Linked DNA regions of Homo sapiens: region 1 is linked to region 2. A link means that fine-mapping ties the variant in region 2 to the expression of a gene that starts in the linked region. Tissue or cell type: whole blood. Region 2 holds a variant in brackets; the other region holds the start of a gene. All regions are shown on one strand. Distances are from middle to middle.

Region 1 (8,108 bases), 170 kb before region 2:
GGATGAATAATGCAACCAACCAACGAGTCAAGTGCATGAAGTATCATTAGTTCTATAATGCTATAAATCAATAAAGGCATTGTCCCCCCCAATTAAAATATGTTCACCAAATCATCCAGTTTAACTAAAGTCAGAACTTTCTCGTCACTTAAAATGAATTGCCTTAATAATGGAGATATACGTGAAGATCAGCGATCTGGGCATCTACAGATCGTGATCAAAAATATGGTTCAATTAAGCACTATATCATCTCTGTAGCTGCTTCAAATTATATGTCATATTTGCCAGGCTGTCTATCAGCCCATAACGTGGTATTAGGGAAGTCTAAACAAAATCATATGATAAACATTTCTACCTTCAAATGCCAAAGAACTAGAACCTTTCATGATTCCTAGGTGTCCTAGAGGTCACATTTTTTAAAAGTCACATTATTGTGTTCATTACTTCATTTTTATGATGGTCACATAATCTATATGTCATTGATGCTCATAACCTCCTCAAAAAAAAGGAATTTCAAAACTTGAGATATCAGCTGTAGCCTCTTATAAGTTATCACTTAGCAGAAAATAGCATTTAGCAGAAGATAGCCCCAAAAATCTTTCATTAAAGTCTTCACTTTCAAAGTCAGTTACATCTGGGTTCAAATTTTTGTGCTACCACTTGCAAAATTTTGCTCCACCATGACAAATGTGGGCTGTGTGACTCTCTGAGCCATAAATTCCTCACCGAGGAAATAGGAAAAATGATACCTGCTTTATAGGAGTGATAAGCAGTTAACTGATACACTGTATAAAGCATATATATGGCCTAGTACATTACATATAACAATTTCTAAGTAAAGTTTTTCTTTCTTGATAGAATTAAAACATTTATGTTTTTCCTTTTCTGCCTTATATTCCTCCTTCTTATCCAGGGATGGATTTTTCTAATCATCTCTAGGAACTATTTTATTCTAAGGACTAAATATTCTAGTCTAATAACTATTTTACCACAGTGACAAGGTAGGTAATAATACCGACTACAAATAAGAAATCAGAAAATGAAAGATCTGTGAGTCAATGGCAGACAAATTTAAACTACCACCATGAAGGAGACCGGCAACTTCCCATAGTGAAAGAGTGTTAATAAAAAGGATCCTTTCCTCCAACTGAGTCCAAAAATAAATGCTATTTCAAAAGCTACTGGACAAACATTAACTTGTCTCTGAGACTACTTCCTCCTAAAGCAGATGGCACCTGGAAGCACCAGAAGCCTACATTCTAGGTGTGGTATGACTTTACTCTCTTAGCCATGGTGCCTTAAGTTACACAAGAGCAGGCTTTTAAGAGTGCATTTAAAATGTAGTTTACAAGCTATTCAGGGAAAAAGAAAAGTGCACAATCTTTTGCCCTCATCTCAGCTATGTGTGTGTATGTGAATGGAAATGTAACCAATACGACAGCTTGATGTCACATGTATTTGCAGAGATTTTTATAAAAACACAGTAAGACATTTTTAAAATTATTACATTGATTTTACAAAAACAACTGTCATACCACACTGAGTCTACTATTTGGTCCTCCCAAGGTTACAGCTGCAACTCCTATCCGACCCTTCCCCTTCCACACCCATGCCTCCATTTTCCTGTAGGGCATCTCGGCAGGAACACCACCACGAGGTTGTGAAACCACTCTGCTGCCACATTTCCTCATGCCTCACTGCTGAATGCGTGAGAGACACTACATGAAATTGGGCCTTGCCCAGACCTCTTTGTTACATTTGTAAATAAAATCAGATCAAATCACAAAGATATAATTGATTTAGGAGAGCCATGGTGCTATTCAGATAGGAAATATAAACAGAAGAGAAATGCCCTATGGTATCATAGTTTCCTTAAACAACACATCACTAGCTCAGTTTCTCAGAGTGAAAATGCTGTCACATACTCCCAAGGAAAAGAAGAGCTCATCCTTACACAAATTTGCTTTTAACTGTCAAAAGAAAATCCCAGAGAGACGCCCACTGCCTTACAAGTAAATCTAGGATTACAGTACCAAATCTGTTATAAAAACAACAATGAAATAAGTTCCAAGTTGTTTCTTCCTTTGACAAATACCCAAATAACTTCCATAATTTGAATACCAGGTCAAAAAGTTTTATTACAAGCAAAACAAATACTTCAGTCCTACTCATTGTTAGCAAGACACAAACCATATTAAAAAGCAGAACATGTGACTAACAATTAGCATACCTTGGAAGGGAAGGGACTTACTCAAATTTGAAAGGCTAGATAAAATTATGGGAAAATGAGACAAAAGTTCAGACAAAAAATAATCATATGCTAATAATTCATTTTTATACTCTGAAAATTATTCTTTTAAAATTTTAAATATACTTCTCATTTATTTGAACCCCAGAGTAAAAAATTTAGTGAGGGTTATCAAGAGTTCCCAATATTCAATCCCTTCCATCATTTAACCTAGACTTTAAAAAATAAAATTTGTGGATAAAGAAATCCTTTGACTCGAGAAAAGGAGAAACTCTTTTTCAGCATTAAACACAAAGACAGTATCTGATGAAAACAGTATATTCACCTATCCAAGTTCTCATAGGTAAACTTATAAAAGATGTTTAATTGCACATGTGAGTGGCAGTGATAATATGCAGCAACAAACTTCAAACTTCATCAAGAGATTTTTGTGATACTCAAAGGTATTACATCGCTAACTCTGAAAGAAAAAGAAAAGCCAGAATAAAGCCCCCTAAAATTTGCAACAGTACAACAGAATGAATGAAACATTGGTTCTGTTTTCACAAACTGGTTAAGACATCTTTCTTCACCACAGACACTAAACTGAGAGCTGCTTCATCAGGAGGCATCCTCTAAAAACTTCAATTATGAAGTTACTAATACTACCAGAGATTCAAAAACCAAGAGAGATTTGGGGGAAAGGGGGCATGAGATACAAGATCAGAGACAAGGGTAAAGATCAAAGCCACAAAATAACCAATCTGTACTTAATCGGAATTTTTCATACCCATGCATAAGGCAAACAAAGCAGGCAGGCAGGCAGGCACGCACACACACACACACACACACACACACACCACATTCCAAGAAAAAGAGGAAGAAAAATCTATTAGATACAAATTCAGATCAAATCTATTTGATACAAATCAGATACAGGAAGGGGTAGTAGTTCATTATGAGTGTCTACTTGAAATTCCTGAAAGGCTACTACAAAACCTGTCTAACACCTTCTCCTCCTGGCGTTCTAACAAGTCCTTTAAAATGCATTTTACAAGTTCAGGGCAAGTTGTGGAATGAGGAGTGCTATATACAACTCAAAACCTGCTCCCTTGAGCTCCAAACCTTCCCCCAGAAAACAGAAAGTCTTATTGGAAAAAAGACCGAAATGCAGAGAAGAAAAAGGGGTGCGGGTGGGGGTAGGGAGTGGACAGGACAAAGGAACTGTGAATTCCATAATCACCTGAACTTCTCTTCCCTTTCTTCCTCTTCACAGTCAGTCACCTGGATTATAACTTCAGACTCCAACCAGAAGACACTGTCATCCCCTAAAGTGCTACTCTCACTTTCAGTCTCCATCTTGTACTTAAAAAACAAAAAAAACTAAACCTCCAGGCATGGAATAAAAAGCACCAACATTCAGGTTGTTCAGCTCTACTCATGTATACTCAGATGTGTGTCTGGTGCCCTAGTGACAGGTACTGGTGCTGGTTTAATTACAGTCAGGGTACAGACAGGAAATCACAGGCAGCACAGTCACTGCGTCTGACTGCCATACTGGTGACACCTAGACCCTCCCACTGCCTTAGGCTGCGTGACCTACATAACCAAAAGCAGAATCTAAATGAAGGTGATTTTTTACTAATTATTCTGTAATAATGACTCTTCTCAAAGTTTCCACTTAATAAGTTAAAAATAGGTATTTTCAAAATGCAGGCTTTATTTGTATCCTTTTTTGATCTCGGACTCCAGAAAGGTAAATAGAAAACTAGAAAGAATAACACCATCCACTGGCCAAGCACATGAGAAGCACAGTTATAGATCTCACAGTTAAGGAGGCTCACAATAAGTAGAGAAGATAAGTATGCTCTAGGGACCTGCCTAGGTTCATGCCTTCCAATATTACACCCATCTTTCCTTCCTCTCAGTAAGGACTGCCATATGCATCTCTGCTCAAGTATCCAGAGTGAGACATAAAAGCTGGGCTTGTCCACAGTCCTTGAAAGAAAAAAGTTTAAGTGTCCCAAGTTCAAAGATGCTGACAATCACATCAAATAAAAGCATGCAAAGTTTTACACATTTAAACTGCAAACAGTCATGGTGGCAATAAAATGACTTGCTGGGAAATGAGTGAAAGGTATAGCATCTATGACTGTCAACAACACAACTGTTACTTAGAAAAGAGCCATGTTGACAGAAACTACTGACCTGCTGGATATTCATGGCTATTTGTCTTTTACCAAGCAGCAACAAACTGCAAAGCCCTGACTTTCCACTGTATCTGATTTAATCAAAAATTAAGAAGACATCTACTGAAGTCTTCTTGAATTTTCATATTTGAAAAATAAAGAGCCAAGCACAGTGGCTCACGCCTGTAATCCCAACACTTTGAGAGGCTGAGGTGGATGCATCACTTGAGCTCAAGAGTTCAAGACCAACCTGGGCAACTTAGCGAGACCTCATCTTTATGGGGGGGGGGGGGGGGGGGCGGGAAACAGCCAAGTGTGGTGGTGCACCCTGTAGTCCCAGCTACTCAACAGGCTGAGGTGGGAGGATCGCCTGAGCCTGGGAGTTCAAGGCTGTTGTGAGCCATAATCACGCCACTGCACTCCAGCCTGGGCAACACAGCAAGACCCTGTCTCAAAAAAAAAAAAAAAAAAATATATATATATGCAGGTCCCTAGAGCATATAATATATATATTATATATAATATATATATATTATATATAATATATATATATTATATAATATATGTTATATATAATATATAATATATGTTATATAATATATATAATATATGTTATATAATACATATACAATATATATTATATATAATATATAATATATATTATATAATATATAATATATATTATATATTATATATTATATATAATATATATTATATAATACATATAATACATATATAAATTTTAAAAACTTTTCAAAAAAAATTTTTTAAACCAAAAACAACAGAACAACATTATAAGCAAAGTCAAAATGCAAACAAGTTGAGAAAAAAATATTTGAAACATATCACAAAGGGTTAATTTATTTAATATATAAAAAGTTCTTAAAAACTTCTAAGACCCAAGAGCTCAAAAGATAAATAGGCAAAGAGCAAAAATATAATACTCAGAGATAAACATAAAAGAAACTTAAAAGATGTTAAAAGTAACTTCACTGATAACAGAAATGTAAAACAATACATAATAAGATGACTTTTAAAAAATCTATCACATAGGCAAAGCTTTTAAAAGGTTTTAACAAACTGAAAGAGGACATGGGAAAAGAAACATGCCTGTCAGTGGGAGTTTAAACTGGTACAACCTGTGTTCAGGGCAATTTAGCAAAATCTACCAAAATTCAAAATGCACATCTTTTTGGCCCAGCAATTTCTCTTTTAGGAAATTATCTCACTTTCACAAGTAGAAGTAAGAGGCAAACAGGAACATTCATTCTGGTAGACATTATAGTAGCAAAATAGGATAGCAAAAACAACCTAACTTCCTGAGGAATAGAAAACTAGGCAAATTACAGAATACCCATAGAATGGAATGCTACACAGTGAGTATATGAGAAAACAAGGCAGCCCTACAGGTCACAATACGGAACAAAGCCTAAGGAATACTGTTAAGGCAAAGAAGAAAGGGGTAAAAGTATAGGGCAGTATGTGCAGTATGCTATGCTGCCATCTGTGTTTTCAATGAGGAGTTAGGAGAAACAAATGCAGACTATCTATGGAAGAAGAGGATCAGTACTAGTACCAGTAGTTGTCTCCACGGAGGAAAACAGACAGCTGGAGAAGAGGAATAAAAGAAAGACACGCTTGAACCCGGGAGGTGGAGATTGTTGCAGTGAGCCGAGATCACGCCATTGCACTCCAGCCTGGGCAACAAGAGTGAAACTCCGTCTCAAAAAAAAAAGAAGAAAGAAAGATAGTTTTTCACTATGTCATGCACATATAATCCTTACCAAAATATTAACTAATTTTAAATAGAATCTTTCATGACCTTCAGTAAAGAATTGGATTTTTAAATATTATTTCATTAAGAATCTAGTTCTTTTTTTTCTAAACAACTCTAACTCCTTCAAAGTGTTGTTTTTTTGTGGGGGGGGGGGTTGTTTTGTTTTGTTTTGTTTGTTTGTTGAAACAGGGTCTTGTTCTGTCACCTAGGCTGGAGTGCAGTGGCACGATCTCGACTCACTGCAACCTCCACCTCCCAGTTCAGGCAATCCTCCTGCCTCAGCCTCCCAAGCAGCTGGGATTATAAGTGTGTGCCACGACACCTGCTAATTTTTGTTGTTGTTGTTGTATTTTTAGTAGAGATGGGGTTTCACCATGTTGGCCAGGCTGGTCTCGAACTCCTGATCTCAAGTGATCTGCCTGCCTCTGCCTCCCAAAGTGCTGGGATTACAGGTATGAGCTACTGTGCCCGGCCTCAAAGCGTTTTCATGAATCCTATTCACCTTTTCTTTTAATCATTCTTTTGTTCTTTCATTATGATGGTTGATTTCCCTCACTTCGAGCCTTTCAAAAGTGAAAACGTGAACTGTGAGTGGTATTTTTACACAGAATACTGAAGGACAGTTAAATGTGCACATCTTCCGAGGCTTGTTCTGTTTTGACTCTGCCATCACAAGTTTTTTAAAAATGTTTTTCCTGCCTCAGCTTCCCGAGTAGCTGGGATTACAGGCACCCGCCACCACACCCGCCTAATTTTTTATTTTTAGTAGAGAAGAGGTTTCACCATGTTGGCCAGGGTGGTCACAAACTCCTGACCTCAAGTGATCCACCCGCCTCGGCTGGAGGTTGCTGTGAGCCGAGATCACGCCATTGCGCTCCAGCCTGGAAGACAAGAGCGAACCTCCGTCTCAAAAAAAAAGGAAAAAAAGTTTTTAAATTCAAAACCTACATGTGTTTCTGTTTTCTGTTCCCTTCTCCAGTAGTAAATGAAAATCCAGCGGAATCAACAGGTGATGGTTAACAGCGGGGGCAGGGATGGAACACAGCCGAGTCCATCACTCTGGCTACCAGTGTGTGAGAGAGACTAGATACTGCTGAAGACCACAAGGTGGTTTTAACTCCTTTTCTTCCTGATTTGTTTAAACCCTGATCAGCCTTCACTTTCCCAACAAGCTTTTATGGAGCTGAAGTCTTTGACTGAAACCACAGGAGTCACCAGCAGTAATTTCGAACTAGCTGGTTCTCATCTTCTACCTCCAAGAGGTAGGGAACCTGAGGGGAAGGGAAATAGCTAATCCCACAGCAGCAAAGAGAGAAGCATTCTTACAGCAACAATTTAAACACTGCAAGTCAGAATGAATTTTTTCGAAGAGAAACATTGTTAAAAGTGCTGACTTTCCTAGTAGCAGTGGTAAGTAGTAATAATCACAGCAACAGAGTTGGCCCACAGGTTCCGTATGCATGGGTTCTGCATCCATGAATTCAACCTCTTGGTTGAATCAAAAATACTCAGGGAAAAAAGAGGGATGGTCCTATCTGTATTGAACATGTACAGGCTTCTTCTTGTCATTATTCCCTAAACAATACTGTATGCCAACTATTTACATAACATTTACATTGATAGTTATTATAAGTGATCTAGAGATGATTTAAAGTATGAGAAGATGTGCATAGGTAATACGTAAATACTACAACATTTTATATAAGTGACTTGAGTATCTACAGATGTTGGTATCCACAGGGTGTCCTGGAAACGATTTCCCCATGGATACCAACTGATGACTGCATATGCTGAGCACTGACTCTATATGCCAAGCATTGGATTAAGGCCCAAACATAACGAATTATATAATTCTCCCAACCACCTCATGAGGCAGGAGCCATCATATTACAGGTGAAGAAACTGAGACTTAGCA
Region 2 (8,108 bases):
AGCTCTATTCCTTTTTGTTGTTGCTATTTGTTTGTTTTCTAATGACTTTGTTAATCATTGATAATTTAATGACTTTATTGATAATTTACATACAATGCCATTATTCACCCATTGAAGGTGTACAAATTCAATGTGAGATTTTTCTGGTCTATTATGTTACTGATTCTTAAAATTGTGGTAAAATATATGCAGTATAAAATGTGCCATTTATGCAGTTTTAAAAGGGTATAATTTAATGCTATTAACTACATTCACAATGTTGTACAACCATCACTACTATCTACTTCCAAAACTTTTGATCACCTTAAACAAAAATTCTATAACCATTAAACAATAACTTGCCACTTTTCCCTCTCTCTGGCTCCTGGTAAGCACAATTCTATTTTCTGTGTCTATGAATTTACCTATTCCAGGCATTATGTATAAGTTTAATCATATAACACTTGTCCTTCTGTGTCTGTCTTATTTCACTTAGCATAGTGTTTACCAGATTCATTAATGTTGTAGCATGTATCAGAACTTTATTGCTTTTATGGCTAAATATTATTCCATTGTATGTATATACTACCTCTTATTTATCTAATTTTCTGTTGGTAAACACTTGGATTGTTTCTACTTTTAGCTATTGTAAGTAATGCTGCAATAAGCATTTGCCTGAAAATATGTTTGTTTCTGTTTTTGAATTATTTGGGGCATATACCTAGGAGTCGAATTGCTGGGTAATATGCTAAGTCTATGCTTATTAAGGAGGTGCCAAGCTGTTTCCCACAGCATCTGTACCATTTTACTTTTCTGCTAGCAATGTACAAGGGTTCCAATTTCTCCACATCCATGCCAACACTTGCTATTTTCTGTCTCCTTTAATTATAGCTATCCTAGTAGGGGTGAAGTGATGTCTCATCGTGGCTTTGATTTGCATTCCCCTAATGACCAATGATGTTAAGCATCTCTTCATGTGCTTATGGCCATTTATATATATATTCTTTGGAGAAATTTCTATTCAAGTCATTTGCCCAGTTTTTTAATTGAGTCATTTTTTTTATTAAGTTGTAGGAGCTTTTATGTTCTGGGTATTAAATAGGGTCATTCTTGACTTAGACTTCTTTATTTTCTTACCTCAAAATAATTATTGGGTTTCATGGATTCTAGTTCCTTGAAATCATTTCGGTCTCTCCTTTTTCTTCATCCTATGGCTTCAGAAGTCAATTACCTCTCCCTTGGATTAACATAGAAATACAGTAACTTTTTTTTTTTTTTTTGAGATGGAGTTTCGCTCTTGTTGCCCAGGCTGGAGTGCAACAGCATGCTCTCAGCTCACTGCAACCTCTGCCTCCCGGGTTCAAGCGATTCTCCTGCCTCAGCCTCCCAAATAGCTGGGATTACAGGCACCTGCCACCACGCACAGCTAATTTTTGTATTTTTAGTAAAGACAGGGTTTCACCATGTTGGCCAGTCTGGTCACGAACTCCTGACCTCAGGTGATCCACCCACCTTGGCCTCCCAAAGTGCTGGGATTACAGGTGTGAGCCATCATGCCCGGCCTACAGTAACTTCTTAACCGGTTTCCCTCCTCTCTATTTTGCTCTCCTTGAATCCACACTCTATAACATTATGGCCCGGACTTTCAGAAGCACATCTGATTATGTCACCTTCCTACCATAAATCATTTAGCACTTCTTATTGTTTTCAGAATAAAATATAAATCAGTAACATAGCATAAAAGATGCTTTATGATCTGGCCCTTCTTTCTCATTTTCTCAGGACACTTTCCTCTTCAAACCTGCACTTCAGCCACACTCAAGTACTGCAGGTGCTTCATGAGACACTTTCACTTGCCTCTATGCTTTGGATGTTTTTCTTGTCTGCCTCGAATTTCTCTACCCCTTCCTAACTCATATTCTTCCTTCAGATCTCACCTTATATAACAATTCTTTCTGAAATCCTTCCCTTATTTCTTTTCGGACTGGGCTAAGTGCCCCTCCTTCGTGCTCTTAAATCTCCCAGTTCCTAACTATGGGTGTAGGCACCTGTTGACTCATCTATCTCCACTACAGGTCTGTTACTGTGAGGAAAGGGAGTGTGTGCTGTTCACCACCACATTTCTTGGACCAACACAGTTCCTGGGACAAAGTAGATGCTCAATAAATATATGCTAGATGAATTATCTCTATATTCAATTTCTATACACTTATCTCCACTACAGATTTACAACACGTTGCTACAAGGAAAACAATGCAATGTAATACAAAGAACAAAATGTTGCCATTCAAGAAGGTGGTATTTAAATATCCAGAAATATAACAACATCCTGTTCCCAAACTCAGCTATCTGATTGACTAAACAGTCATTAGAAAGCACCTCAGCCAACTTCTTAATCATTCCCCATAGTTTTGTGGTAGTTTCAGCCTGTCCCATGAAGTGGAGTTTTGTTTTGATTTTTTAGGGGGAAGAAAGGTTTCTAGTTATGTATAAACTTGTTTTCCATACCTGGCAAGACTGACTGGCTCTGTGTGTTCTATTGCAGGCAGGGGGGAAATAAGGAAATATATTTTTATAGGAAAATAGCAAAGTCACTACAAATGACTTTGTATTTGTAATTCATAGAGTCAGGACAGAAAAATCAATGGCAGGAAAAATTGAATTATTTCTATTTCTCTTCTTTTATATTCATCCTCTTATTAAGATTTTACCTTTTACATTTTCCTTTTTCAGCCAGACCCTCCACTCCCTTTACTCAAGAAGGTTTACATCCTAAGTTAAAAGAGACCAGGTGTCATCTATAAATTCAGGGAACTGTAAGTGCACCTAATCCATAAAAGCCAGAAATATTTAAGCATGATCTAGAGCAGGCAAATGTATACTGGAGTTAATGTAAATGCAATATATGAACATAGTGTTGATCATATTCAAGATCTACCACCATAAACTAATTAGATCCCTGAGACCAACTCAGAGAAGCGGAGCTTTTACTCACGGTTGAGGTCCACAAAGCTTGTTTATACTGGAGCTGACTTTGCTCTTAAATGGTGACATCAGGGCACAGTCCTAGATCTTAGAGTTGTATGCTACAGAGTTGCTACCGGTATTATGTGCTGCTTTCAAATCCTCCTTGTTCAATACCCTTATTAATCAGAAGTAGAGCTAAGTCATGTACAACGATTTTCGGTGGAGAATTCAAGTCCTTGATGGTGAGAATGATCAGAACTAACCCTAGAGTGTAGGACGGGCAAAGAGGCTTCCCTGTCCAGTCTAGAGAGTCCCTTGATCTGTTTTAGGGAAGAATAGCAACAGGTGACACTTCTGACAGTGCTGAGGTCAAGGAGCCCCCCAGGTGGCCTTCCCAAGACAATGTTCTGGGACAGTCACTAGCGCCGACGCAGCACCTCTGGAGAGCCTGTCTTTGATAATGTACCTGCTTCGTGCCGATAGAGGGAGACCGGATTCCACAGCACACACGCCATGCGTCCCTGCTGTCCGGTAGAGGGCAGTAGCGGCCACGCTGCAACCCTGAGAAGTGGCGGGTACCTTAGGATCCTTTCTGATTGCAGACGTGGTCCAGAGCCAAAGCGGCTTGGCTGGGAAGGCTCCGTGAGACGCCGGGGCTTGATTGCTAGGAGGTGAAAAACTTTCGAGAACTCAGAGCAATCCAATGGACAGTCCATGTTCCACATAATTATCAACTCACTTTCCCTGCTCGTGAAATTGCTGTTAATTTTTAACAAGTGATTGGGACTGTCTATATTTAGAGGATTACCTAGTAACCAAAGCTCATGACACATGAGATGGTTAAGTTTTCCTACCAGACCTAACTGTGATATTTCCTGACTTTAATATGTTTTTATGTCAGCCCTCTTAATATTCAGTTTACCTCGGTTTTATCAAATGCTTAGCATTTTTTATGAGGGGGTGGATGAGCGAAAAATAGAAACTCATAAAACTGGAATTTCATTTCTTTTGAAAAATATAACTGAGATCAGTGAAAAAACATTGTCCCATAGAGGGTATGGGAAACTTGGACTCAAAAAACTCGGGTTTGAGACTTGGCTCTGCAAGTGTAGATGTGGCTGTGTGGGGTAACCTCAAGTAAACCACTTTTCCTCAGTTTCCTCTTTCGTAAAATAGGGATAGTAAGACTTGTCTTTTTTCATATATAGGGCTGTATAAAGTTCACATGAAGTACTGCATTTGAAAATTTTCTGTAAATGGGAAATGTTATGCAAATGTAAGATATTGAAGTTC[G/A]CTTTTTATTTTTGAATGTAAAATATTATAATATTTTTGAACTTAAATATAATTTGTAGGAAAAAAGATAAATGTCAATTGTAAAACTATGTAAACAATATTCAAAACTACATAGAATAAATTATCACTGGGCTGAGTGCAGTGGCTCACACCTGTAATTCCAGCATTTTGAGAGGCCAAGACAGGAGAATTGCTTGAGGCCAGGAGTTCAAGACCAGCCTGGTCAACATAGCAAGACACCTATCTCTAATAATAATAATACATTTTAAAAATAAATTATCACTGTTAGTATTTGAACATGCTTTTAGACATCTCTATATGCACCTATATACATGTGTATATAAACAATGTTTTGAAGCTGGAATTGTATTGCACATTCTATTATATCAATGACTTTTTCACTCAGCATTGCAGTAATAATAGTTAACATATATTGATCTTTACGTGTCAGTCATTGTCTAAACCATTTATATATATCTTTAGTGTTACAATAACACTATTGGGTATGTACTTTTATCTCAAAGACAAGGAAACTGAGGCTCAGAGAGGTAAAATGACAGATTTCCTAATTTCCTTAAATTTTAAGAATTCTTACAACTAACATTTTTTTCTTCTTACAGCCTGTCCCACTTTTATCATTTTTATCTCTTTGGCAACCTGTTTGTTAAACAGCAGCTAAATCAATAGGACTGCTGGTTTTAAAATGTCAACTGTCACACCTACACATTTCTGGAGGGAGGAAATCTAGGAATGGGCAGTTTTTAAACAAGCACTCCTAGGAAATTATGTGTACAATCATATTTGAGAACCACAGCTTTGGTTTCAATTCCTAGGTTGGGACTGCTGGATCGATTTTGTGTTTGAGATATAATGCCAAACTGCCCTCCAGAAATATCATACCAATTTACATTCCCACAAACAGCTTGTGACTAATTCAGTCTCTTTTATGTGGGTCTTTGCACTCCAAAATATTACCTTGTAAATGACTTCTTAGTTTGTCATCAGGACAGTAAACTACTTGTTAACCTACAAGTATGTGGGGTGTGTATATTCCAAAGCTGAATTCAAGACTGGGCACTTTTTTTCATTTGTGTTAATAATTTTGAGGTTCTTTGGAACCCCAGAATCTGCATATTTTCTGCAATGTCATACCCTCTCCTCTCTTCATGCCCTGCTCCATTTCTGTTCTCCAAGCCATCATATTCATGGAAGTCAAACTTACTTTTCCAAAATTATACTGCATAAATAAAAGCATAAACTCTGCATCATTAGTTCTTACAAAGGAAAAACAAATTCTATTTCTGTCCACAAGAAGTTAACGAAGATCTACCCCTGTGAACCCCCATTTGACCACCTTGGTTTTATCCCATTCTTAGTGCAGGGTCCTTCTGCTCATTCTCCAAAAAGTCTTGATCCTACCGACTTCTAATCTGTCTGTGTCAAAACTAAAATCCTCTTTTGGCTACTTGAATATTATTCTTTACTGGACCCCAGATCTTACTCTTCAGTTCAGTTGAGCTATAGTAAAATTTCTGGCTTTTTTTTTTTTTTTTTTCTTCATAAAGCAAGAGTCTACTCCTACTGAGATTCTAAATAAACCTTTTTCTCTTTTAGAAAAATTACCTTCCTCCTACCTAGAAAACTGAGTTTTTAAAATTTCTTTGTTCTTGAAACAAAGAGCTATTTTCTCTCTTAAAGGAAACAGAAAGACTTTGTTGCTAATTCATTAACAAGCAACTCTTAACAATTAAGCTATAGACATTTAACAAGTTACACACAGACCTCAGCCTAACAGATCATGTACTCTGGAATATTTAGTAGGAGGGTGAGTCACCTCAGACATAATACAAAGTTTATATTATTCAGTTATGACAATAATTGTTCCTAATTATCTCAGGTTTCAAAAAACTTCAAATCTATGTACAGAGAACAAAGTCGCATAAAATTAGACATGGGTAGGTTATTTGTACTTAATGTTGCTCCAAATGAATAATGAAACTGTTTTCTTCTTCCAATATGTTTAGTCAAGTGAGAGCTCGTATTCTAATACAGACTTCTGAACTAAATCATTATTTAGAATGTTTCATTAAAAATCCTCTGATCTGAAACATTGAGTGAGTATGTAAATGCGACAGGAAAAACAGGGTAATAGGAACAGGAGCCTTGCCGGGCTCCTAAATCTCTTCCTCCCCGTCTCTGAGCATTTATTTCTCTTTGGGGCTGTCACTATGTGGTCAGTAAAGATAATCATTTGAAATTTCAAATATCCATCGAAGACGCCATAGAAGAGACTGAAGAAATAATAGGACCGCATTAATTTGATTTTATAGAGCAGCATTTTATGCAGCGGAGGTTCCCGTGAAACACCGTATATTTATATGTATTTGGTAATTCAAATCATGTGTCAGATTTTGTTAAAGTGAGGACATACATCCACAGGAATGCCGGTGGGTTTTAGGCGAAAAGGCACTATTCTGTGATTTCTAGTACTAGTACTTTTATTTTTCAAAATTTAGCAAAAACCCACTGGCTTAATTCTGACTTGGTCCCAACCTTGAGAACATAGGATTCAAATGAGTACAGAATTGTCTCAGAGACGTGATTAAGTCCTTTTCATATCCATTACATTTTGGACTATAGATCTGTCAGAGCACCTCCCAAACACTGATAAATATCACAACCTCCTTCAGGAACTATAAACTGTATTCTGGTTTCAGAAGAGAAAACCAAAACCTTTTGAGTTATATCCATGTACAGTCTACCCAGAGAAAACAACCCATTGCTCTGCCTATACAAATGAGTAATTTGACTAATTTTCCCCCCTGACTTGGCAGAATCTTTTATTGAACTGATTGAAATGACCAGATGTTTTGGCAGCTTCTGTAGACATAATCTAAGCAACTCGATAATTGACTTAAGTAAACGTATCAGGATGTGGACTGGCAATAGAATTGGGGATTCTCTTCTGTGATGACTTCAAATTCAATTTTAAAAGGCAGGCTGCTTGTGTAATTGAAACGCAGAGAAATTGGCACCATATCATTCATTTACTTTAGTAATTTATAGCCTCTTTAGATCCAAGCATCCTAGCAACTTCGGAAAGTAATGAAGGAAATGCCACAGCATTAGAGATCTATAAAAACTGTCCTCGTGGCTGTCTGCTCAAAGTGAGGTAAAATATTTATCTACGTAAAAATCCCCAAATGGAAAAACTTGAGCAAATATTCACTTGACTCAGATTATCATTTTCTTGATGACATTTTGCATTTTCTTAAGTTTTTGAGTGTTTTGCCTAAGAATATTCAATACCAGAATTTTCCATATCATTTTTTGTTTCTCTATTTTGCTTCTAGCATATTTGCTGTGTTATTATAATTTCTGCTGATATAAAAACATTCTTTATAAATAGCTCACAGAGATCAATTTTCTCTTAAAAGCCTACAATTGTAAGAAATATTTCAAGTTGTGGAATATTTCTTAGAAAGGGAAACAGTCTACTTTTCTTTGCACACATGAAAGCCTGCTAACCATGGCTGAGCACAAGACAGAAAGATACTACAAATGTGAAACCTCAGGCTGGACGGCTCCCTCAGCTCTCTTTTCTTTTTTTCCCCCTATGAGACTGAGGATTCCTCTTGAATTTGTTTAATAAACACGATTTTCAAGTGTCTTTCTTTTCCCTTTTTATCACTTCCTTTTGCCCTCTCTTCATTCTTTTTTTTTTTTTTTAAAAGAAGAAGAAGAAAGAAAAGTTATGAAGTATGCACAGGGCGTATATGTGCAGGCATACAGAGAGAGACACACACACTCATATACACACATGTGTCTACACTTTGACCTAAGTAGATGATTAGCACCTGTGTCCAGGA

Evidence for each region. PIP is the estimated chance that this variant, and not a neighbour inherited with it, causes the effect.
Region 1: it holds the start of ARHGAP32, and the variant in region 2 is fine-mapped to the expression of ARHGAP32 in whole blood (INTERVAL, PIP 0.93).

The regions. Positions count from the first base shown.
Region 1 is chr11:129,188,613-129,196,720 of GRCh38, forward strand. ARHGAP32 (Rho GTPase activating protein 32) reads right to left here and starts at 3,713. Exons shown (of 23, transcript NM_001378024.1): 1 at 3,471-3,713. The coding sequence starts at 3,586.
Region 2 is chr11:129,360,853-129,368,960 of GRCh38, forward strand. No RefSeq gene overlaps it. Among named protein-coding and RNA genes, the nearest start is that of BARX2, 11 kb to the right of the region's middle. The variant G/A (reference allele first, on the strand shown) is at 4,240.